Linked DNA regions of Homo sapiens: all the other regions are linked to region 1. The links come from fine-mapping of genetic effects on plasma protein levels. Region 1 holds a variant in brackets. A gene starts in each other region. All regions are shown on one strand. Distances are between the middles of the regions.

What was found. PIP is the chance, under the fine-mapping model, that this variant and not a neighbour inherited with it causes the effect. The UK Biobank Pharma Proteomics Project read protein levels with antibody pairs (Olink). The fine-mapping took linkage between variants from a reference panel, not from the people measured, so its PIPs are less certain.
Region 2: DARS1 starts here. The variant in region 1 is fine-mapped to the plasma level of the DARS1 protein (UK Biobank, PIP above 0.99).
Region 3: it holds the start of MAP2, and the variant in region 1 is fine-mapped to the plasma level of the MAP2 protein (UK Biobank, PIP above 0.99).

What each region holds. Positions count from the first base shown.
Region 1 is chr2:240,564,353-240,572,364 of GRCh38, reverse strand. It overlaps RNPEPL1 (arginyl aminopeptidase like 1), which reads right to left and starts at 3,881. Exons shown (of 11, transcript NM_018226.6): 1 at 3,251-3,881. The coding sequence starts at 3,778. DUSP28 (dual specificity phosphatase 28) reads right to left here. Exons shown (of 2, transcript NM_001370465.2): 2 at 7,109-8,012. RefSeq lists enhancers at 2,157-2,795, 2,745-2,924, 2,796-3,434, 7,385-7,464, 7,595-7,744 and silencers at 3,195-3,244, 3,485-3,674, 3,815-3,874, 3,905-4,164, 5,675-5,914. The variant C/T (reference allele first, on the strand shown) is at 879.
Region 2 is chr2:135,983,243-135,991,254 of GRCh38, reverse strand. DARS1 (aspartyl-tRNA synthetase 1) reads left to right here and starts at 5,629. Exons shown (of 16, transcript NM_001349.4): 1 at 5,629-5,852; 2 at 7,801-7,858. The coding sequence starts at 5,787. DARS1-AS1 (DARS1 antisense RNA 1) reads right to left here and starts at 6,079. Exons shown (of 4, transcript NR_110199.1): 1 at 5,739-6,079. RefSeq lists an enhancer at 5,783-5,882 and a silencer at 5,933-5,992.
Region 3 is chr2:209,419,394-209,427,405 of GRCh38, reverse strand. It overlaps MAP2 (microtubule associated protein 2), which reads right to left and starts at 3,359. Exons shown (of 16, transcript NM_001375505.1): 1 at 3,130-3,359. RefSeq lists a silencer at 3,289-3,678.

The DNA of each region.
Region 1 (8,012 bases):
CACTGGGCAGCAGCCTGAGAGAAGGCAGGAGGCTCTGGGAGGGGACAATGGCCAGATTATCTTGCTGGGTTCGAGGGCCAATAGCCACCCCTTAGCCTTCACTTGCCTGCCTGGGCAGGGAGACATCCAGGGCAGGTGACCCAGGGTGTGGCCTGCACTGTGTCATCAGGGCCAGACCCCAACCCAGGCAGGAGGCCCTGTGTCAGGTAGCCGATAGGGGCATCTCCCAGCTAACGCCAAGGCGAAAAAAGGGAATAGCCCATCATTGCATTATCTTAGCTTCCATAGGGAAACTGAGGCACAGTAGGGACACACTCAGTCCAAATTCCCAGCAGTTGATTTGGTCATGGTCAGGAAAAGGAGGCTGGGATGTGGAACCTGGGAAGCCAGAGCCTCCTGATGGCTACGCACTAGCAGGCAGCACGCCCGGGCCCAGAGCCACCCTGAGCCCAGGCAGCCTCGCCTGGAGGGACCCTGCAAGAGACAGGCTCCAAGCCAGGGGACAGCAAGCAGGGAGTGGAGGCCAGGCCAGAGGACCCTGCTGGCAGGGGACAGGAGCGGCCAAGGGAAGGATGGCTGGGGCCGCTGCCTGGAGGCCGGGGGCTGCGGTGAGTGCTGTGGAATGGGTGCGCTCACAGCAGCTGCTACCCACCTAAGGTCACCCCCCCGGCAAACCTCTCATCTGCACCAAAGCTGTTGAGGCTTTCCTCACCCCTAGATGCCGAGGCCAGGCCCCAGCCCCACTGAGAAGCCTGCACACCCGGGGCCCTCCTGCCACTATCCTGCTGCACCCGTCTCATCTTCCTTCCAGGAATTCTGACCTCTCCAGTGAGGGCAGCTCAGAGTCTGGGAGGGGGACCCTCTTCCAACCACAGCCA[C/T]ATCACCTTCGTCCCAAGTCAGCCCTGCACGTCGTATCCACCCTCCCCTCTGCCGGAATGAGATAGTCAAGGCAAACTGAATTGCTCTTCGTGCAGAGGCCCTCCCATGACCATGAGTAGAAGGTGCCCCCAACATGCTTCTAAGACTGGACAAGTGGAATCCACAGCTGAGGCCTGGAGGATCCCAGACCAGGAGGGCTGCCTCCCCCGCAGTCCCGGCCAGACCCCTGCCAGCATTCTCAGATCTCTTCCAAACTTCCTGTTGGTGCCCTGGCCCTGCTGGGCAGCAAGGTAGCACAGGCGTCTCCCATTCCTGCTGAGCCCTGGGCTGCCAGGGTGTTCAGGGCCCACCTGGGGAGCCATTCACAAACGCAGCCTCCCCCTTGGGGGGGGCTGGGACCTGGGAATCTGTATGAAGGAACCTCCCTGCAGGAGTCTCCCCAACCCTTCAGCCTGCACGGCCCCCTCACAACTACTCCTCTCCTGTGGCCTTGCCTCACCCTCCTGAGGCCCTTCTCAGGCTCTGCCCACTCACACCTCTCCCTACTGCCCCATGTCCACCCCACAGCCTCAGTAGCCTGGGTGTCTTCCCAGATACCAGCAGGGCCCACAGCTCCCCACTTGCCCTGAAGTGAGGGGCTGGGGCAGACCCCCAGACAGGACAGGCCCTGCCCCACAGATGGGGCACCAATCCCCGTCAGGGCACCCGGGCACAGGTGCTGATGGGCTGGTGGAAAAGGAACAAGGCTGAAGGGCTCCAGACGCTGCAGGGCAGGAAGAACGCTGTTCTTGCTGGGGTGGGGTGGGGGTGCGGGAATGGGCCCAAGCATCTGCAGCACCTCCAAAAAGCCTCTGGGGGCCTGGGGCCCACTGGCAGGGCCTCCCAGGGAGCTTCCGCTGCATCCTCCCTGGCACAGGGACAGGCTTAGGGATTTGGGCCTGAGTCCCTGGAACATGCAGGAAGAGAAGGGGACTCTACGTGTGGCCCCAGCCCCATGGCGCTCACATACAAAGGTGCATGCCTGAGGTTAGAGTCGAATACTCTGCCTTCTGCAAGTAGGGCGGCTCACAGGCCAGGTGACGCTAGGCCCCCTGTCCACAGCCTGCCAACCCTGACACCACGCAGACTTGGGGGACTATGCCACTCTCCCTGCCCAGAGTACCCAAGGGCCACCCAGTAGGCCATAGGAAGCCAAGAGACAATGGCCACCCTTGCTCACTGGGCCCCGTTCACAGCAGCCTGCTGAGGGCCCTGGTCCGGCCACTCTGCAGGCCAGTGTTGGGCGGACCAGACACGTGGGCTCCAAACACGGATCAAGGCCAAGGAGAAGCCCATCCCTCAGTTCTCACCTGTCATACTGGGAGGCATACTTGCCACCGGTCAGAGCCCTGGAATACCACAGCAGGGGCGGGGCCGGCTAGCCAGCGGCCTGCACACCCACAGGGGTTCTGGGAAAAAGGTGAGGTGGCAGGTCCTGCTTAGGGCTCCTGGGAAATGTACAGGAAGCCCATAGGGGTGCACTGGTCTGGGTTCTTCCTGCCCAGATGTCACCTTGGCTCTTTGTGGCCTGAAGCCTCTCGACCACCTCTCCACCACCCTGTCCATTTATGTGCCGTGACCAGTGACAGCTGGACTTCCCAGCGCCTCCACAGCTGTGTGTGTCTTGCATATGTCGGGTGTCACATGTGTGCCGTCCATACCACCTAGGGATGCAGTATGAACCCCCATGCTGTAGGCAGGAAAGGCCCTGCTCCATCCTGTACACATCCCCACTGGTGGAGGTGGAGGGGGTGCTGCAGCCACAGCGCCAGCCTCAGCCACCTGGCCTTTCTTGCAGAGTCTCTGGAGTGGTGGGTACCCAGTGTGCAAGCCCTGCAGAGCCTATGTGTGTCTATGTTGGGGTCGCGGGGCCCACTGGTCTCAACACTCCACCAGTGCTGGCCAAGGAAGCCCCAAACCGAGCATCACAATCTCCATGGCCCTTTCCTCTGCCTCTGGCTTGGACTCATCTGCACGCACTGGTCACATGGAGGCCCTTCCGCAGCTGACACTCCAGCCCAACCCTTGGTGCCAGGATCCTGCAGATGTACACCTCGGTGGGTGACAGAAGCTGCTCATGTCCCCAGGCAGGGACCAGACACCTGAACGGGAGGCTTCCCGGAGTGACATGCTGTCCCGTGTCCCCGCAGGACTCCGGCTTCTATCCGAGGGTCCTAAGGGCTCACAGGCAACAGCTGGGAATCACCGGGGTGGGGGGAGGGGGGCACCTGTAGGGCGCAGATTCGCGTCCCTCAGCCTGGCCGTGCGGCGAGAGGCCGCTAGCAGCGCCCTGCGGACCGGCCCGCAGCCCCGGCGCCCGCCCCGGACTCACGGCGGGGGCGTCGGTCGAGGTGTACCGCAGGATGACCTGGAAGGGCTGGTGCGCCTGCAGCTCGGGCGGCAGCGTGACGGTGAGCGAGGAGCCGTAGTCGGTGAACGGGTCCACCCTGAAGGCCAGCGGACAGCAGGCGGGCTCGGAGCCGGGCGCCTCGGGGAAGGCGGGCAGCGGGGGCGGCGGCGCGGGCCCCGGCCCGGGGGCGGAGAAGGCGAAGGCGCAGGGCGTCTCGGCGGCGGCGGCGGGGGCGCGACGGAAGGCGGCTGAGTGCAGGCGCAGAGCCGGGTGCGCGTCGAGCACGAGCGCGCGGGGCGCGGGCCGCAGCGCGCACAGCTCGAGCACCAGGCAGCCGGCCAACTCGCGCGCCTCGGGCCGCAGCTCCAGGCCCAGCTGCAGGTGGCGGAGGCGGAAGAGCTGCGCGCTGGAGGCCGAGGCCACGTCCAGGGCGGGCGGCGGCTCGGGCGGCGGGCGGACGGGCGCGGCCTCGGCGCCGGGCGCCTGGCGGCAGCAGCACTGCGCGGCCATGGCCGCCGGCACTAGGTGAAATCCATGGGCGGCGGCCGCGCCGGGCCGCGGGCGAGGGGCGCCGGGCGGCGGCGGCGGCGGGGCGCGGGCACAACAGGAAGTCGCGCCGGGAGCCGCCCGGCCCGGCCCCGCGCCGTGCGCCGCCCCGCTCGGGCTCCGCTCGGCCGCCGCCGGGGGCGCTGTGCGCGGGGCCGGGGCGCGGGGCCGGGGCGCCGGGCGGGGAGGGCCAGGAGCCAGGGGCGCGGGGAGCCGGGGAATCGAGCGCGGCGCGGGGCCGGGGCGCTGTGTTGGGAGCCGAGGCGCGCGGAGCGGGTGAGCAGCACCCCCAGCCCCTCGCTTCCTCCCCGGGCGGCGCCCGGGAGATCCCAGGAGGCGGGATCGCTGCTCCCTCCCAGACACTGCCGGCCAGGCCCCTGGGGCAGCCGCTGAAGGGACCCGGGAACCTTGGGGCCACAGGGGCAGGCTGCTTCCAGGTGTGGTTCGTGTTCCCGAGGAGCGCAGCGTCGCGAACTCAATGTCATCCTTTCATCCGGGGCTACGGGCAGGGCAGGATTCTCCTGGCACCCCTGCCACTCCTCCAAGTCTACAGGTGTGGTCTGTGCTGTGGGCCCTGCGGTGCGAGAAGCGCCGGAGCCTTCACGCAGCGCTGTCAACTACAGCAGCCACCAACCACGTGTGGCCATTTAGATGCGAATTAAATACAGTTAGAAGTTCAGTTCCTTCGTGGCAGGTGGAGTGAGTGAGTGTGTGTGTCTTCCTGGGAGGAGTGGCTAATGGACAAAGCAGGCAGGAATCATTTCCACAATCGCAGAAGTTCCTCTGGGCAGTGCTGGGGACCTCTCATTTGGGAGCCCTGTGCTGGGGTACGAAGGAGGGTCTGGCCCGCCTGTCCCCACCCCATCCGCCAGGTCCACCCTTCCCAACGCCATTCTCTGTGGACCTGGCGAAGGCTGCCCAAGGCTGAGCCTGTCCAGGAGCCTGAGCCCCGAGGGAAGGGGTGCTCGCCTGGCAGAAGCTGCTAGTGAGCTCACAGCGGTTAAATTTTGAGGCTGTGGAATAACAGGGGCCACCATGATGTCGCTGTTGTCATCAAGTAAGAATTCAAATTCCTAGGGACAAGGGGCTTCTGGGGCTGGGGAACTATCCAGGAACCCAGGACACCTCTCTCTTCTGCTCCATTGAGGTGTGGCCGTGCAGGGCTGGACTCGGGTACCGCACTCGACTCAGCGTCAGCCCTGAGTAGTGTTTCCTGTGTCTGGACTCAGTCTCCTCGTTGTGTAACCCTCTGTGTCTACCCTCCTTCCGTGGGGCGGGAAGGAAGGCTGAGAGGGAGAGTGTGCGTTCACGTTTGCGGGACAGAGCACTGAGGCATCATTTCAGTTTTCCCGTAGGACCTCAGGTCCCCACGTGCCCTCTTTAGGGACACGGCCACGATCTTGGGGCACCCATCCCAAACTCACCAGGAACCCCTAGGCTTACACAGTCACTCAGAGGTGTGGATCAGCCTCGCATCCAAGGCTGACAGGGAAGACAGCTGAGATGGGACCCTCCTCACTGCCCCCAGCGCCCTGCCCGGTGGGGCCCTGCAGTGCCAAGGGCAGACTGTTTTCGATGGCACCCCCAGTTCTACGGGGCTCTCCAGAGCCCACCGGGCCATGTTCCTGGCTGGAAGAACCTCAGTTCTGCACACGCGGTGCCACACTAGCTGGGCCTGGCCGTCCGGGGGGCAAGTCACCACAGGGAGCTTGGGGTCTTGCCACCCAGAGCCCCGCATTGGGCTCAGGGAGCAGAGGTTGGGGTCTCGCCCTGGGCACCTCTCCGCGGCCAGTTCTGCACACAGGAGTCCAGAGTTGCTGTGGCACCTCCTCCCCGGGGGCCCAAGGGAGCGCCTCCCACCGCGCACGTATGTGAGGAGCTGCCCTACTGCACCCCATGGAGCGGGAGGCGCGGCTGAGCCGAGGGGGCGGGGTCTGCAACTGAGCCGCGGGAGCCTCTCGCGCCGGCCCCGCCCCGCCCCGCCCCGCCCGAGGAGGCCCCGCCCCCGCCGGCCTGACGCCCCCTGGCGGCGGGAGGCTACGCCGCATGCAGGCCTGGGCAGACACCTCTGACTTCTCTAACCCTGGCAGAGGAGCCTGGACGTCGCGACTGTCAGCCCTGGCTTTCTCCCACAGGAGTTTTCATACTCCAGCTTTTTGGTGATCAGCGCAGTGAAGTGGCTGCGCGGCATCTGCACCCCAGCCTTCCCCTGATGCACCCGAGGGAGGGGTTCCTGGCTTCACCCACTAGGAGGTGGGTGTGGGCATGGAGCGTTTTAGCAGGCTGGGGAGGGCAGCAAAGCTTCCAGGAAGAAGCAGTGTTCAGACAGGGCCGCGCCCAACCCCGACAGAGGACCAGGGAGCTACCAGTTCTCAGATGGAGCTGGTGGGCTAAAAAGGTCTGATGTGACCCACAGGTGTCCTTCAACCTGGCCGGGGCCCTGCTGCCCTTGTCCCCTTGTCACCAGGGCCAGGTCAGCAGGTAAAGGGTGTGCCCTGCCCTGAGGCAAGGGCAGCCGAGGTTTTCATCAGGGTGTTGTGAGCAGGGCTGAGCCGCGGGGGAAACCGCAGACCCAGGTCCTCCCTCCTCTCCAAGCCACTGTTCCTCACCCACTAGTGGCGACCGGCGGCTGCTTCCTTCCGGGTTGATGAAAAGGTTGCATGAGTCATGAGGAGCTTATCTAGAGAGGCCAGCGGCAGGCAAGCCCTCCACAGAGATGGGGACTGCCCTGGGCACCAGCTTGTGATGGGGGCCGCGGTCCACAGCGATGGGTGGTGCCGGCTGGTGACACGGCATAGAGGGGCAGCGACCAACAAGGTGTGGCCTATGCTTGAGGCCCAGGTACACAAGGCGTGGGGAGGGAGAAGGCCCTTCTCACTACCACCCCCACGCTTGGCTGACAAAACCCGTGCTTCCCATCCCCCCAGCTTTGGGCTCTGCCGCATCAGAGATGTTCGGTCCCCAGGTGGGATGCTTTTGCTTAGGAACACAATCGGGTCTCACTGGGAGGGTGGCTCAGACACGGCCCAGCCACGGAAGCATGAGACAACACAGGGCTGGCTCTGGCAGGTGGGCATGAGGCTTTGTGAGGCTTGGGGGCCAGGAAGAGTGGTGCCTCCTACTTCTCTCTGGTGGTGCAGTACAGGTAACGGAGGCCACAGCACCTGTGTGGGCAGCCATGCAGGGCCTGGGGCCTTAAAAATGAAGGATCGAGTCATGCCACCAGGTGAAGGCCATAAGCAGCTTAGGCACTGGCTGAGGGTAGAACATGGAACGAGTATTGGAAAAGGCAGATAAGCACCAACCACAGTATTTTACTCATTGACGCATACAGAATGTAAATACGCGTAGTTGTATATATTAACCAATGACTACGTTATCTGTGATTCACATGTATTACACACATTTTCCTTTTCTTTCCCCACTCCTATTTAAGGAGTGTTGATTCTAGGATAGTCTTTAGGCCACAGGATGTCCAGGAGAGGTGGTGTCTGAACTAGAGAAGGAATCAACATGCTTGGATGCCTCCAGTGGTGGCTTATGGGGTTCCACCCTCACACGGCGGGAGAGGCAGCACCTTGTTGGCTTGACAGTAGCTATGTGACCTTAAGTTGGGGTGCAATGTTGGTGAAACAGAGATCAAAGTAGGAGAGGGGTGCAGATGCTGGAGGCCTCCCGGGTTCCCTCACCAGGCCGTCTGTCAGCACAGCCTCCTTCTCCCCTGCCTGTCACAGGAGGGGCTTCCCATGTTCGGTGCCCAGATGAGACCAGTGAGAGGTCTGGGAGGTGGGAGGAAGGAGATGTACTGTGGCTTCAGCAGCTGGTGGGCAGGAGGCTCTGCTGGCAGCTCCAGGTGCCCTCCACAGCCAGGACATCAGGCAGTGGGGATCTGGGTGGCAGGTCCCTGTGACTCCCCTATGTCTCCTCTCCTGTCCTTGGCTCCCCAGCCTTCTTCTCCCTGCATTCAGTTTCTTTCTGCCCAGTTCCTTAAGTGGTTTAGATTTTCCTGACCAAGGCTTGTTTAATAAGCTGAGCTGACCAGAGGGAGAGGACGGAGCAGATGGTGGTGCAGGGGTCCATGTGGTCTGATGCGCAGACCCTTGCCCCACCAGCAAGAGGGGACAGAGACCCTCTGGAGCTGCATTTCCGGAAGATGGGGCTTAACTGGGAAAAATGAAAACTCAGTGTGGAGGCGAGT
Region 2 (8,012 bases), 100 Mb after region 1:
TACATAATTTACTTATTATGTTACTTATTTTGTTATTTATTATCTGCCTCCATCCTCTAAAACATAAGATCCACAGGAACAGGGACCTTTATCTACTTTATTCTCTGATGTATCCCAAATGTCTAGACTAATGCCTGACACATAGTCGACTCTCAATAAATACTTGCCGAAAGAATGTATGAGCACTGGGACCAGGTGTGGTGGTTCACACCTGTAATCCCAGCACTCTGGGCAGCTGAGGCAGGCGGATCATTTGAGGTCAGGAGTTCAAGACCAGCCTGGCCAACATGGTGAGATCCCATCTCTACTAAAAATACAAAACTTAGCTGGGCATACTGGTGCTCATCTATAATCCCAGCTACTTGGGAGGCTGAGGCAGGAGAATCTCTTGAACCCAGGAGACGGAGGCTGCAGTGAGCCAAGATCGTGCCACTGCACTCCACTCCAGCTGAGACACAGTGAGACTCTGTCTCAAAAAAAAGAAAAAGAAAAAAAAAAGTATAAGCATTGGTATAAATTTTGGTAACTACAGTCATCAACCAGAAACTTTGTATACACTGAGGTTATAAAACATGAAAAGTGACTTCTGCACTAAGATGGCAGATCTAATCTTGCTCCTGCCCTTAATGCCACAAAAACTATAATCGAGAGGATGGGAGAACAGGAGAGGAGACAATCCCCCCAAAAATGCAGGAAGCCAAAAAGCAGCAGGTGGGCCAGTGGTAACCTACTTAGCAGATATGAAAAGCTGAATCCTAAGGGAGCAGTCAAGAAAGCTGAGAAGTGACCTCACTCATACCACAGAAATCACAAAAGACTCAAGACAAGCAGCACCAAATACCTCTGGAAACGGAGATGGGGAGTGGGAATGATAATGACAATTTGGGGAAAGTTACAAGAGAAGTCTGATTCCTGCAGCCCTCCATACTCTACTCTTTTGGCAAGAGTCCTCTCCTACCCTGACATGATGGATTCTGTAGAGAAGGTAAAAGGTGGGTCTTTGACTTCAGGAACTGGGTACTGTACCCAACTAGGGGAATTCGGTGACCAAATACATGTGGGATGCCAGATATTCCCAGAACACTAGCAGTGAGACCTTTATTCTTCATGCAGCAGATCAGAAGAGCTTTCTCCCTGAACAATCTGACTAGCCAAAGGGAAAGATCTAAAAATACTGACACCCATCAAATGGCCCACCCAGACCATCATGCAGTAAAATCCACAATGGACAAACCCCATGGAAGTGCTCAGAGAGCTTCTAATCAGCTTTTTAGTCTCCCCTTTTTTTTTTTTTTTTTTTGAGACAGAGTCTCGCTCTGTCACCCAGGTTGGAGTGCAGTGGCGCAATCTCGGCTCACTGCAAGCTCCACCTCCCGGGTTCACGCCATTCTCCTGTCTCAGCCTCCCAAGTAGCTGGGACTACAGGCGCCTGCCACCACGCCTGGCTAATTTTTTGTATTTTTAGTAGAGACGGGGTTTCACAGTGTTAGTCAGGATGGTCTCGATCTCTTGACCTCATAATCTGCCCGTCTCGGCCTCCCAAAGTGCTGGGATTACAGGCGTGAGCCACCGCACCGGGCCTAGTCCCCACTTTTAACATAAGCAGACAATCAAGGATTCACTGAACACCTGAGGTAGGTCTCTAACATGGAAGACAGAGGCCAAAAATAAACAAATAGAAAAGCAACTTGTAAGAAAGGGGTTATGTAGAGAGAACGCTTTTAAAAATTCCCCAAAAAATCACTTTATTAATATGCTCAGTAAGATGAGAAGATATTATATACATTTTAAAAGATCAGGATTCTATTCTTTTAAAGGACCATTCAAATAACAAAAAGAGTGCTTTAGGAAATTATTAAATGATGGCAATAATGGGAAAAACGCAATTGAAAGACTATATGATAAAGTTGAAAAAATCTCCCAAAAGCATATCAAAATGCAGTAAGATGGAAAAATGGAGAGAAATTATAAGGAAATTAGACCAGCTCAGGAAGTCCAATACTTAATAAGAATTCAGGAAACAGAGAAGAGAAGAAATGGAAGGTAGAGAATCATCAAAGACTTTTTTCAAGAAAATGCCCCAGAACTAACGAGCTTCCAGATGGAATGGCCCAATGTCCAGCACAATGATAAATTTAAACCCCCAGGCTGATAAATATTATGAAATTCCTGAGCATTAGGAACAAAGAAGGACCCATGTAGTCTACTTAGCAGATGTCCTGTGAGCTTCTTTCTTTTCCAGGGGGAAAAGAACCACATACAAAGGACCAAGAATCAAAGTGGTGGCTGGGCGCAATGGCTCACACCTGTAATCCCAGCATTTTGGGAAGCCTAGGCGGATGGATCACTTGAGACCCAGAGTTCGAGATCAGCCTGGGCAACATGGGAAACCCCATGTCTACTAAAAAACAAAAAAATTAGCTAGTCTCATAACCCAGTCTTGAAAAAAATAAAGAAATAAAAGAACCACAATGGCACTTCAACCCTCTTAACAGCAACAACTAGGTCCATGGACCTACCCAAAAGTCATTTTCCAGCTCCCTAAATGTATAGTTTGGGATGGATATTGTATTGGAAATTGGCAGAGTCCGACGCTGATTCCTGTCAAGACAGGAACACACAGGACAAGTAAGGAAATGTCAAGGCCTGAATGATTCCATCAGTAAAGCTGTAACATGCTGCTTTTAGATTTAGATGGTTTATTACTTACATAGACAGTGAAAACAAGAATAAGCCCCCAGCCTGGACAACATGGTGAATCCCCATCTCTACAAAAAATACAAAAATTAGCTGAGCATGGTGGTGCACACCCGTAGTCTCAGCTACTCCAAAGGCTGAGGTGGGAGGACCCCTTGAGCCCGGGAGGTCGGGGCTGCAATGAGCCTTGATCGCACCACTGCATTCCAACCTGGGCAACGGAGTGGGACCCTGCCTCAAAAAAAAAAAAAAAAAAAGGCCAGGTGCGGTGGTTCACTACTGTAATCCCAGCACTTTGAGAGGCTAAGGCAGGCGGATCACCTGAGGTCAGGAGTTTGAGACCAGCCTGGCCAACATGGTGAAACCATGCCTACTAAAAATACAAAAATTAGCCAGGCATGGTGGCGGGCACCTGTAATCCCAGCTACTCGGGAGGCTGAGGCAGGAGAATCACTTGAACTTGGGAGGTGGAGGTTGCAGTGAGCCAAGATCATGACACTTCACACCAGCCTGGGAGACAAAGGGACACTCTGTCTCAAAAAAAAAAAAAATTAAATTAAAAAAAAGAGAGAGAGAAAGAAGAATAAGCCAAAGTTGCCAGCTCCCTGTGATTCTTGTCCCATTAAGGACATCACTGAAACAAAAGGCACCAAATGACTGCAACATGAGTAGTGGGACACTCTGTTGCTTAACAGCCACTTCTAGACTCCAGTTAAGCAGTAAGATATTATATACATTTTTGTATTCTGCATTTCCCTTGAGGGAAGGGGGCAAGAAGTCCCACACCTCATCAGAATCTAGGAGGTAGTAAGAAACCATCCCATAACAGCCTCTCAGGGAGACAGGGAAGTGAGTGGGAGATGGCCTTCCACCCTCTCATGTTCCAGCAGGATCACAAGATGTTTTTCCAAGATTCAGGTTAGCTGCAGTTCCCGCCCTTGCCTACATGGCTTATGTGGATCCTGCAAAGCAGCCAGAGCACCATAGCAGAGCTGTTCCCCTATTCTTTGGTCTGTGGAATAGGCTACCATACCGGATAAAGCTAAGAGGAAATCTCTAAAAGTCACTTTCCCAGCCCCCAACTAGGATAGGAAATCATAAACAATAACATGTCCCCAAGGGGAATAGTGGAGATCAGTGCAACCCTTAAAGACGTAATGGTTGGTAGTCTCCATCACATTCCTATTGTCACCGGTGTGGCTCCAGCAAAAACCAGACAAATTCAGGAACTTGACAGTAGACTACTGCAAGTTCAACCAAGTCACAGCCTCAGTTGCAGCTGTGGTATCTTTACTACAGCAGATTCTTAAGACCTCAGGCATATGACATGTGGCCACTGATCTGGCAAATGCTTCTTTTCTATCACTATCAGGAAAGGAGGCCAGAAACAAGAATATATATTTACAGTCTTATTCCAGGACTAAATAAGAATACTTTTATCAAGGCAACGGGGCCAAAGTAAGAAAGAAGTACATGGACAGGCCTCATGGACAGATGGAAAGGTAAGATCGCTACCCTAGCAAAGGGATAATAGATGGGATTTGTATTCAGATTTCTGATAACCAGTCCATACATTAGGACTATACCTGATTGAGGCAATCCAAGTTTTAAAAAAAATTCCAAGATGAAGCAACTTCACAGACCCCCTTCTGTATTCGAATCCCATGAGTATAATGGGATGCCTTTTTTAACGGAATGTGATACTGATCATGAATATTCAGTGTTGCTCCCCAAGGAATGAGTAAATTCTCCTGCCCCCATGAACTCAGGAATGACGATGTGACTTGTTCTCGCCAATAAACTAGGAGAATGTGAAATGTGTCACTTCCAGGCAGCCATTTTAAGAGCTAAATTCTCTTCCTGACTCTGTAATAATGGAAGCATGTATCAAGATGGCGCATCTATCAGCCTAGGTACCTGTGTAATATTAAGAACAGGAACTAGGACTTATCTTTTTATTGCCAGCACCTGATAGAATGCCTGGCACAAAGTAGATGTTTGTAAATAATCTTTGATCAATTAAATAGGGAATAAAATTTCATACCACCTGCAATTAGAAGGAAAGCTACAGGCAAGCAAGGACCATGGCTGTCTTCTCACTACTCCATGGGGGAGCCTCCAGAGAGAGCCTTTCACTTGCGCTGGGATCTATGTGCACCCCTTAACACTTTGTGCCAGACTAAGACACTACCAAGTCAGTTGAAACGACGGAGTGCAAACTCTGGCAGGGGAAACAGTATTAAACCAAATCTCCAAATTATTTTCAATTTCGATTCAAAACTCATGAATGATAGCTTTTTTAAAAAATCAGTTTTTTAAAAAAGCCTAACTTGGGGATATTCGCCCATTGGGCAACCAACACTATGCACTGTCCCTAACACTGCAACAGATCCAGGCAATCAATGCAATTGTATGCGTTTCTTGTTGTCGTTGCCACTGTATTTACACCTCACTTACACAGGGACTGGTAACCCATGCTGCCTTGGCAAGCCAACTGCACTCCTCTGTCCCAACAAGCAGGGCAATGGATTGCGAAGAGGCCTCCTCCGTCCCCAAGCAGCTACGTCGCCCAGGGGAAGAGAGAAGGCGGGAAAGTCCAAGAGAGGAGAAACCAAGGCCCGCGCTTAGGTGGGTGTTTTAGTGACGAGTCTGCGGTTACAGCCGAGCGGAGTTGAAAGGGCTGTTAGAAGAATGGAGCAGAAGTCGCAGTTGGGACGAAGCTGAAGAGAGCTGGCATTCGCCCAGGTCTACAGCCAGCCACCTGGTAACCCCTGCCCCCGCCCCCAGAGCCAATCCAGCGAAACTACCGCGAATTCCCGGGAATTCCCTCCAACTCCGGGAAAACTCCCGGAGGGGCGGGGCAAGAGTGGGAGGAGACCCTGCGCGCGGCCGCCAGCGCTCCGGGATCTCGAGATAGCCGCAGCTCTCGCGATCTTTCTGGAGCCGCACCTCCACGCGGAGTCCGAGCGCGTGTGCTGAGACCCCAGGGTCGGGAGGGCGGAGACTGGGAGGGAGGGAGAAGCCCCTTTGGCCTGCCTTACGGAAGCCTGCGAGGGAGGGTGGTGTCCACTGCCCAGTTCCGTGTCCCGATGCCCAGCGCCAGCGCCAGCCGCAAGAGTCAGGAGAAGCCGCGGGAGATCATGGACGCGGCGGAAGTGGGTTTCCTCCTTTCCTGGGCCTGGGAGGACAGACCCCTGGGCCGGGCTGCGCCGAGGGAGGGAGGAGGGGGAGTGGGGCCCTACAGGTCCTTGTCGGCACGTTCTCCGCAGGCTGCGGGCGTGGGGTCCGGGCGCCTAGAGCCCTTGCCCCAGCAGTGGGGCCAGACCCTCTCCGGACCGCGTTTCTTGCGGGGGTCACCTGGGAGTTTGGCCTACTAGAAGCGTGTCCCCGGGGTGGGGAGGACGGGAAGAACCAGCCGCCCCGGAAGTAGGAGCGCGGCGTCACACTTGAGTCTCTCTGGGTTAGGCACGTCCTGCACGTAATGCACAATCCCTGGGAAAATTTTAATAAGCACTAGTAATCGATATGTACTCAGCCCTCGTGTTCCTAATGCTTTAGCAAGTAATGACAGTACTTAGCAAAACCATCTGCCAATATGTTTAATGACCATTTCCCATGTGACAGCTTTAAAGAACACATGTCATTTTTATTTACTTTCTCCCTCTCAGTGACCCGGTAAGGTAGGTAATAGGAGTTACCGAGAATGCATTTGAGGTGAAGTGACCCCAAATCACGTGGATAATTCATAACACCCAGTGATCCTTCGGTGCTTTTCAGAAATCAAAGTTTGAAACCATCCTACAAGTTATGTGTGCTGTAGTACTGTTAAGCCTTAATTTCCGTCTGGCTCCCTAATTTTTCTATAAGGAGTTCTGAGTTTGTGGTAAGCAACATGAGAAGTAAGGTCATCTTAGAATACTAAATGAGGAAGAGTCACTGAAATATTAATAGTACTAATTATGAATGCAACTTTTTTGTCCTTCACACAATTTAATCTCCTTCTGTTGCCCTCAGGCTTCATTGTGTGACTGTATCTCTCTACTCTGGCCAGGGTTATCTTTTTCTTTAAATTGTTCAGTAAGCGCCTTAAACATGTCTGGTTTTATTTTGGTGTAAACACAAAATCCAGCACCCTCCTGCTCTAAAGGAGAGGATTCCAACAGGTAGCTGTAAAGTGACAGAAACTTAATTGTTTCATACAGATCTTAAGTTACCTTGTAAAAACTAGGGCAATTATTTTTGTGTACTCTTAATCTGCTTAATTACATAAACTATCAGTGTACCCTTACAGATAGTATAGGTCTAGATACAAGGTAGACATTGTGGCAGAGTTATGCCATTTTATAGCTAGAAGAATCTTAGATCATTTTAGAGGTAAAGTAAGATTGAAATAAAGGCCACTTATCTATTTAATAAGTATATTTTGTTAACAGATTGGACCCTAGGTCTTCTGTTTCCTGTTCCTAACTCTAATCTGTAACAAGAAATTTGATATTATTATATTGTCAGTGTCAAACTCCTGTAACCTGGTATCCTGAATCTGGTTTTTAGAAACAGGAAGCTGGTGAATTTTTTGATGATGTTTTACAAAAGGAAAGTTGTAGTTAGCTTATACCCAGCATCTCCAGTTTCTAAAAACTGTGGACATCTGGTGCTCAGAAAGCTTACCCAAAACGTTGGTTCTCTTTGAACATTTCTTCCTGTAATAGGAAGTTAATAAAACTGTGGTACTTCATCCTACTCCCTTCACAGAGGAAATTTATGTCCCTGCTTTGAAGTAGTTTCATCTTTTTGAAGAAGGTAGTTAAGATGTGTTGTACATATGTGTAAATTTTATCTGAGAATGTTATTAAGTATGGTAAATCCATCTAGGAGTGGTGATCTTCAAAACAAACTAACCAGAAACAGTACTTTTCTGTTTTCTGTAGAGTACATATGTAAATGAATGAGAGATTTCCACATTATGAAACTACTGACTTTCTGAATTAATAAAATGATCCTGAAAGTTAAATTCATTTTTATATTCTATTATTAGTATTTATGTGTTTACTGTGCTCTTAGTGTTTACATAAAAAGTCACGATGCAAAAAACTTTTTTTGTAGGATTATGCTAAAGAGAGATATGGAATATCTTCAATGATACAATCACAAGAAAAACCAGGTTAGTAGCTATGTGACAGTAAATAAAGCTTTTTTGCTTTCTAATTCCAGGAAAGCTCTAAATGAAATTTTAAGTAAGGTTGGCATAAATCTGAAGGTATAATTCTGAAAAGCTTAAATGACATTAATAATCCAAGTAGATGTCATAACCCTGT
Region 3 (8,012 bases), 31 Mb after region 1:
ATATGACTCAAAGAGTTTATTAGCATCTTTAACTAATCTATAACAGAGACAAAAAAATTTGAGATTGTTTCAAAACTGTTATCTTCAGGTTCATGCATTTACTAATGACTTACCTAAAGTGACTACTTTTAGCATTAAGGAGGATAGTATTGATCTGGGGGTGGTGCTATCTTCTACTGTAACTATTATTTCAGATTCTTTATCTTAATCTGTTAAGAGGAAATTAAGTATTGAAAGGATTCAATAATCAGAGTTACCAACTTGAATACTAAAATCCCCATGTCAGTTTCATATGGTCAGTCTCAAAAGGACATCAATGAATCACTGAAGGATGCACCTATTGTCCTATAAGCAAATGTAATAATGATTTTTTAAAATGCCAACAGTGCAACTACATTTGTTAATAGCATGTCCAGTCTGTTGTCTAACTGCTAGTAAAATTCAATACAAAATATGTGTGTGTGATAAGAAAATACACAAAAATACACCAACATTTTTCTTCCTTTTCCCTTCTGATGTTTAGAAAATTTGCGAACTGGTTTAAACCAAAAGGGGTAAAGGAATGAAATTATTCCTTCAGGCTTAGAGGATTCTGTGCCAAGTTTCATTTCTGGCTACATATTTCTAACCAAGTTCAAGATCCCTGAAAAGGAATACATAAAAGAGAAAATATCCCTTTAACCTCAGTGGAATGACATTAGTAAAGGCTGCTATGGGAAGAGAAAGGCTTTTGCCCTGAGATGGGTGTGCTCCTGGTGTTTGGTTTCCACTGAGAGGATGCCTGCTCTCTCAATGAATCTGAAGTACCTACTAGGATGAGGTAATGGCTGTGCCAGTTTCACTGGGTCATGCTCTTTCAGCACATTCTTTCCCTGTCTCCTCCCTGAGAAGGTGCTGTAAACAAGTCATCCTGAGAGGTGCTGCAGAGAATGAACAATCCTAAATTCAAAATTCTTGAAAACACTGGCCCTCCTATGGCAGTATAGAAGACTAAAGCAGCCATAAAGAAACAGGTTATTTGATTAGAAAAGGGAAAAAAATAAGAGAGGAGATAAATAAAATAAAAATTAATATAACTAAAATATTATTTTATAAAAGGTAGCTCTATTTTTAAATTACTTAGATCTTCAGATGTGTGTTAAGCAATTTTCTACTTATGGTTTTAAAAAAGAAAACTTTGGACATTAAATAATATTGTAGCAAACTGTAAAATATGAAAAATTAAAATTAAATAAACCACAGATAAACAGCATGTACCACTGATCCTAAAGCCACAATGGCTCTGATAATATACAAATCATGAATGCAGATGTACACCTATGATAATCAGATGAAATTACCAGGAAATCAACATAAACATACACACACAAATATAATAATCCTTACTGAATGAGAAAAATGCCTTTTTTCTTGAAGGAAGGGTTCTTTGTGTGCATGGGGCTGGGGCTTTTGGAACATCCATGATTTGCAAATTCACAAGGATTTCTACCAAAATACACCTATTGCCCGGTTAAAGGGCTGCTTTGTGTTATATTCTGATGGAAGGCTGTAATCTTTTCCCTGGGCATAAAATTAAAAGCATTCTAAAGGGCTTCTATTTATTCAATCTATTTGACTGCCAAAAAAAATCATAATTGTCCACAGTGAAATGACATAGTGAAAGAACTATGCTTTTGAACTGGGCTGGTACCTGCAGCTCATGCATGGGACATTTTGCATAATGTGGCTCACATAGAAGGCTTTGTTCTCCATCGCCTCACTGTGGCTGCAAACCTCAATTTCAGTTTGCAATCATTTCCTTTTCTAGACTGATCATTTTAAAATAAATTATACCTTTAACATTTAAATTAGTTCCTTACCAACAGTCATCAATCCCTTTGCCTCACACCCAAAATTATATACCACCCAACAATATTTTTTTGTTTTGCACTACAGATTTTATTCACAACATAATTTCCAAACCCTCAAATACAATTTTAAAAAATCAGTCTCTTAAGTACCTATTTCCTTTTGTAACATGTATATAGTGTATTATACATTTGTGTGCATACTTGTGTGTTTAGGCATTTAAACAAAAACCCTTTACACCGGACTCAATTTTAAAGCGTCTATGTCCTGGAAGCATTGTGCTAAGAGCTTACGACAGATGGCACACAGCAATTGTCACAAACGGGCTTGTTGCTAATGAAAGCTTTTTATTTTCTGACAAAAATCCTGAAGTCCGGATGCCAGGCAGAATAACATTAATTTCCAGTTTTCAAGGATTTTTTTTCTGACTCCATCCATACCCCTCCCCCTATACACACCCAAATATACAGCTCCCCACTCCTAGCCCCCCACACACTCTTTCTTGAAATTTCCATCCTTAAACAAAAGACGAGGTGGGGGAAGGCAGGCAGCCAGCACTGCAGTCCTCCTCTCCCCACCAAAAAAGCCTTTTAAAAAGAAAAGGAAGAAAAGAATAGATGCACTGTAGATTCAGAGGTCCACCCCCAACGTTTAAAAAGAAAAACGACTGTGTGGAAGCCTAACCAGACTCATTTCTTCGTGCCCCGCCCTCCAACACCACCAGGCATTTATTTTTCATTTTCCTACAATTATAAATATCAGTCCTCCTCTCCCAGCTGTTTCTGAAGGAATTACAGAGAAACATGATTTGAAATGGACAAGGCTTCCCTCACTCACTCACTTCCCAGTGTGCAGTTCTCTGCAGCTGGATGAACAAAAAAATCCCCTACCTCGATTTCCTATTTTCCACTATCTTTGTAGAATCCACTCCCCTTCTTTCCACAGCGCAGGTAATACTGGCTTTCGATACACGTATTCTAACCTGGCGTAAGTTTTCAGTTGTTTCAAAGTGGTACCTAACAAGCTCACTCGCTCTTCTACGAAGCCAGGGCTCAGGTACCAGTAGCGTCCGGCCCCCTGCTCCGCAGTGACACCTGGAGAGGACAGGCCCGAATCTTCCGCCAGGTGCACGGCTGGCCACTCGACCAACTACCAGACTGCCTGCTGCGAGTCCCAGAGGACGAGACACAACCCCTCCCCATTCCTATCTCTTTCTACTCAGAGACCGAGGCAAAAGGAGAGGCGCCCTACATAGAGCCAGAGGTGGGGACGGTCTCTTACCTGGGCGCAGAAACTGGATGCACCCGCGGTCGCGACTGCCACCGCTCACGGACTTAGCGCCCTCCGGAGAAAAAGGAGAGGGGTAGAAGGGTTAGGGGAAGAAGGGGAGGGGGGGGAAAAAGAAGGAGAAGGAAGAGAAAGAAGCGGAAGGGAAGTAAAGGAAGAGAGGATGCTGCTGCTGCTGCTGCTGCTGCCCAGAGCCCGCGCAGCCCGAGCGCCCGCCCCAGACTGAGAGCGGCGCCCCCAGCCGGCTCCCAGCGCAGCAGCTCCGCCTCGGCCCCTCCTCCCCGCCCCGCGCAGGTCCCGCCCCGCGCAGGTCCCGCCAGACTCCGCGAGCCCGTGGGCGGCCGCGGCGGGGCTGGCGCTGCCACCGCCGCAGTGTCCGGGAGGGGGAGCACGACCGCTTCGCCTTCTGCCGCAGCCGCCGGCCGCCAGGCGGGGACCGCGAGGTGGGAGCCTCGGAGAGCCCCGCCCAGCCGCTGGCCCGGGCCTTCTCCAGAGCCCTGGTCCCCTCCCGCGACAAAGTGAGGCCAGTGCCCGGGCGGCGGGACAGGCGGGCCTTCCTCACTGGCGTCCTTGGAAAATCGGGGGCAACAGCTTTAGTCTCTCGGGAGCAACCTCCGCAGACCCCCTGCTTCCCTCCCCTGTGTCGCTATGAGGCGGGGTTGCCAGTGGCACCTCACCAGGAAAGCTCACTGGCCTCGCCTCACAAACCCAACCACAGGTGCATCCAGAAAAGACAAAGGAATGTGGGGCGCTTGAGAACATAGAACAACTCTTGTCAGCACTAAAGGAGCAATGGCTGAGGGAGTAGAGAATTCTAGACCCAGCTCTGTCACGAATTAGATTCATTCATTTATTGAGTCAACGAATGTTTATTGACACCTACTATGTGTCAGGCACTCTTCTAAGCATTAGAAACATCAGTGACAGACCTTTCCCACAACCCTAATAAGAAAGATCCCCTCCCTTTATAGTTATTACATTCTAGATAGCCAGACGTATGCTCTAGAGACAGTTCACTTAATCTAACTCTCAGTGTATTCATGTGTCATATGAGAACTAAAAATGACAGCCCAATTCTCTTATGCTTAAAAAGATAATGAATATGAAGGATCTTTGAAGAATGATACAAATACAATGAATTAGAAAGCACGGAAAGTGTTGACCTTGAAATATCACCCTTAAAAAAATTGCCTCTTAAATGCTTTTGAAAGTGAAATGACCACCTGAGAAAACAAATGATTCTTTACCATTCGTACTAAGGAGTATGAATCTTCATAATCAGAGAGCAGCATTTTATTGTAAGTAAGAAAAGTAAGATGCAACTTAGAATTACTTCGAGTGTCTATATCAAGTACTGACAAGGTGTTTTTAAGGTCAGCCAACATACTGAGGTGTGGCTTGTACAGTCTTCACAGTGCTGATGAAACAGCAGCCATAATGTGGTTCTGTCACTTAAATTAACCACAGAATCTTAGAACCTAGAACATTAGAGTTGATGTTTTAGGCAGCTGGTCTAATTTCCTCCATTTTCAGATGGAAAGAGACCCAATGGTGGGAGCCTGCAAGGATTAGAAACCATCACAGAGGAAGCTGTGAAAGCCTGCCCTCCCCAGTCACACCCAGTGCTCTGTGTCCTGCCTCCCCCGCTCTGCTTCATACCATGTGCCAGTGACGCTTGCAGTGAGTTTGGAAGTATCAAGGCACACCCAGGAGCTGGGAGGTTGGAGGAGTTGATGCTCCTCCTCGGAAGATGGCCTTACTGAGAAGGAGGTCTTAGGAGACTAGGAAATCATAGACAGTATGTGGATGGGAGGAAGGAGTAGGCATGCTACCAGAGTGTTAGCAGCTGACATTCATGACCAGGCATGCAGGCGCAGGTGCTCAATGAGAGTAATTTTCCAGGGCCAGGAGCGGTGGCTCACACCTGTAATCCCAGCAGCTCAGGAGGGAGTATCGCTTGAAGCCAGAAGTTTGAGGGTGCAGTGAGTTATGATTACACCACTGCACTCCAGCCTGGGTGACAGAGTGAGACCCTGTCTCTAAAAAACAGCAATAAAAAAGACATTATTTCTCTGATAGTTTAAAGTACAGTGTTCCTCAGCACTTTTTGTTTTTGTTTGTTTGTTTGTTTGTTTGTTTTTTCCTCCACTTTAAGATTAGCTGAGGCAGCCAAACTCTAATGGCTTTTCTCTTTGGGGAACCTGGTCCTTATATGGGAGATTGCCTCCTCTCGACACACATCTTAGAGTTCTTTCAGAAAAATAGCATCTATATGTTGTAATTCAATAGAGAGAATTTAATATGGGGAACAAATTACAAAGGATTCAAATGACTAAAAAGCCAACTAGGGGATGATGAGGCAACACGATGATAGTTACTAGCAGGAAAGTACTACCACTCTCAGGCTGGGGAGTGCTAGAGAGGAGGCTTTACCAGGAATGAGGAGCACAAGCTACATTAAAGGAACTGAGACCACAGTGGAGATGCTTACTGGGAGACAGATAATGCTGGAGGGTCCTCCAAAAGCTGAGAGTGAAAAGAAATATTGTGGCCCTCCTTTAACCTGTATTTCAAAACCCTGTCATTGGGTGAACCTAGAAGAAAGTCAGTTGACAAAGCAGCCTAAGAAATACAGTTTGCAGGAGTCAGTGCCCTGGGATGTCAAACAACTTTAGGAGGGGACTCCATATGTTTAGGCTTCTGGTTTAAGGAGGGATCTTTGTGTTGAAGTGAACTTTTTTTTTTCCCTCAGCAAAGCATCCCTTCCTTAGAGTAATGATCCTTTTCATATGATTCCCCATATGCTAGTAAAATGTGTGCCTCTCTTCTCTTTCTCAGAGGTGGACATGTGACCCTGGCTAACTCTATAGTAGAACCTGTTCTCCTAATGTATAGTGATTGATACAGGGTGGTCATATGTCCCAAATATTTCCAATCAGGCTTTTTTCCATGAGATGTGTCATATGAACAATAGTGAATCGGATGGTATAGGTATAGAGTTGTCAGTGACTGTATTTCCTTCCATGCAGAAAAGCAATGCTGAGAGATGGAGAAAGAACACTTGAAAGACTCCATGGATCCTGCTACGTCTCAAGGTAGAAATGCCATTTTTCAAGCCAATAGATTTTTGTTTCTTTTCTAAGCTTGCTGTAGTTGGATTCCTGTCATTTTCAACTGAAGAAGCCTTGACTAATACAGTGCTGGACTCCAAAAAGTAAACCACAGATAGAAAGAGCCTGCCAATATTGATTTCCACAATTACTTGTCTTGTCTTCAGGCTAAATTCTTGATTTGTATTTATTTGGCCCGGAGGATTACGTACATAAACAACCATACCCTTTTCTCAGGGACAGGACTTCTGATAGTTTCTCAGTCAGAAAACCATCAGAATAAATGTATTTCTACTGATTAGAGAAAGGTCTACTGGTATATAGGAAGTAATGAAACCTTCTCCCCAGAGAGTCAAGGAGTAGGTGAGCCTTTGAGGAGGTTGTACTGCATAGTGTTAAGAGCACCAGACTTCAAGTCAGATCTGAGGGCCCATATTTGCTGTTCCCTGCTTGTGTGACCTTGGGTACATCTCTCTACCATTTTGAACCTCAATATTTTTATTAGCAAATGAGGAGACTCAACCACATGCCACCTAAGGTCACTTTAGTTTTATAAAGCTATGAGAAATTATAGCTCAGCTGAGGATTTGCTTATTAAGTTGATGAACATTAATTAAGTGGCCCCTAGAGAAACAATGAGCAAGGTTCATACATACACAAACAATGCTGATACAATGTGCAGCCCATCATAGAAAAGATGTGGATGCAAGATGCAGGTATGACACTGAAGAGCAGACACACATAAGTCTTTTACCTTCTATGTGTGAAATGGGCTTTTTGTGTTTTGTTTTTAATTTCTTGACCTTTTCTCTATGGATGACTAGAGGCACATCTATCAAAATTTCTATCATGTTTCACAAGTTTTGACCATTGCAATGGCTTTAAAATTTAAAAATGAGCTTTGTAGTATGGTCTCCCATTTCCAATTCTATGCCTAGTTCATTGAACAGGTGGTGAAATTACCATTGACTTCTTCTGGACCATAAATGTATCATTCTGTTCAAAAATTTTGTTGAGGTATAATTTACATTCAGTTAAAAGCACAGATCAGAAATGTTCAATCTACACCTTCAGCCCCAACCCATAGAGGTAACTACACTTTTGATTATGTTTCTCTGTGGCTTCACTTTGCATATTCTTGGAATTCCTATAAAAGGATTCAGACAATATATATTATTCTACATCTGGCTTCTTTTGCACACATATTACTTTTGAGATGTATTCTTTATTTTGTAAGTTATCTGCAGTTTATTCCTTTTTATTGTTCAGTAGTATTTTATTGTATGGATATACCATATTTTGTATATCCATTTTCTAATTAGTGGACATTTGGGGTTATTTTCAGTTTCTGCTTGTTAGTAATAAGGTTGTTATGAACTTTTATATAAGATTTTTTGTGGATATGTTGTTGTTTCTTTTAGTCATATACCCAAGAGCGAAATTTCTGGGTCGAATGGTAGATATATGCTTGACATTTTTTTTTTTTTTTTTTTTGAGACGGAGTCTCGCTCTGTCGCCCAGGCCGGACTGCGGACTGCAGTGGCTCAATCTCGGCTCACTGCAAGCTCCGCTTCCCGGGTTCACGCCATTCTCCTGCCTCAGCCTCCCGAGTAGCTGGGACTACAGGCGCCCGCCACCGCGCCCGGCTAATTTTTTGTATTTTTAGTAGAGACGGGGTTTCACCTTGTTAGCCAGGATGGTCTCTATCTCCTGACCTCATGATCCACCCGCCTCGGCCTCCCAAAGTGCTGGGATTACAATGCTTAA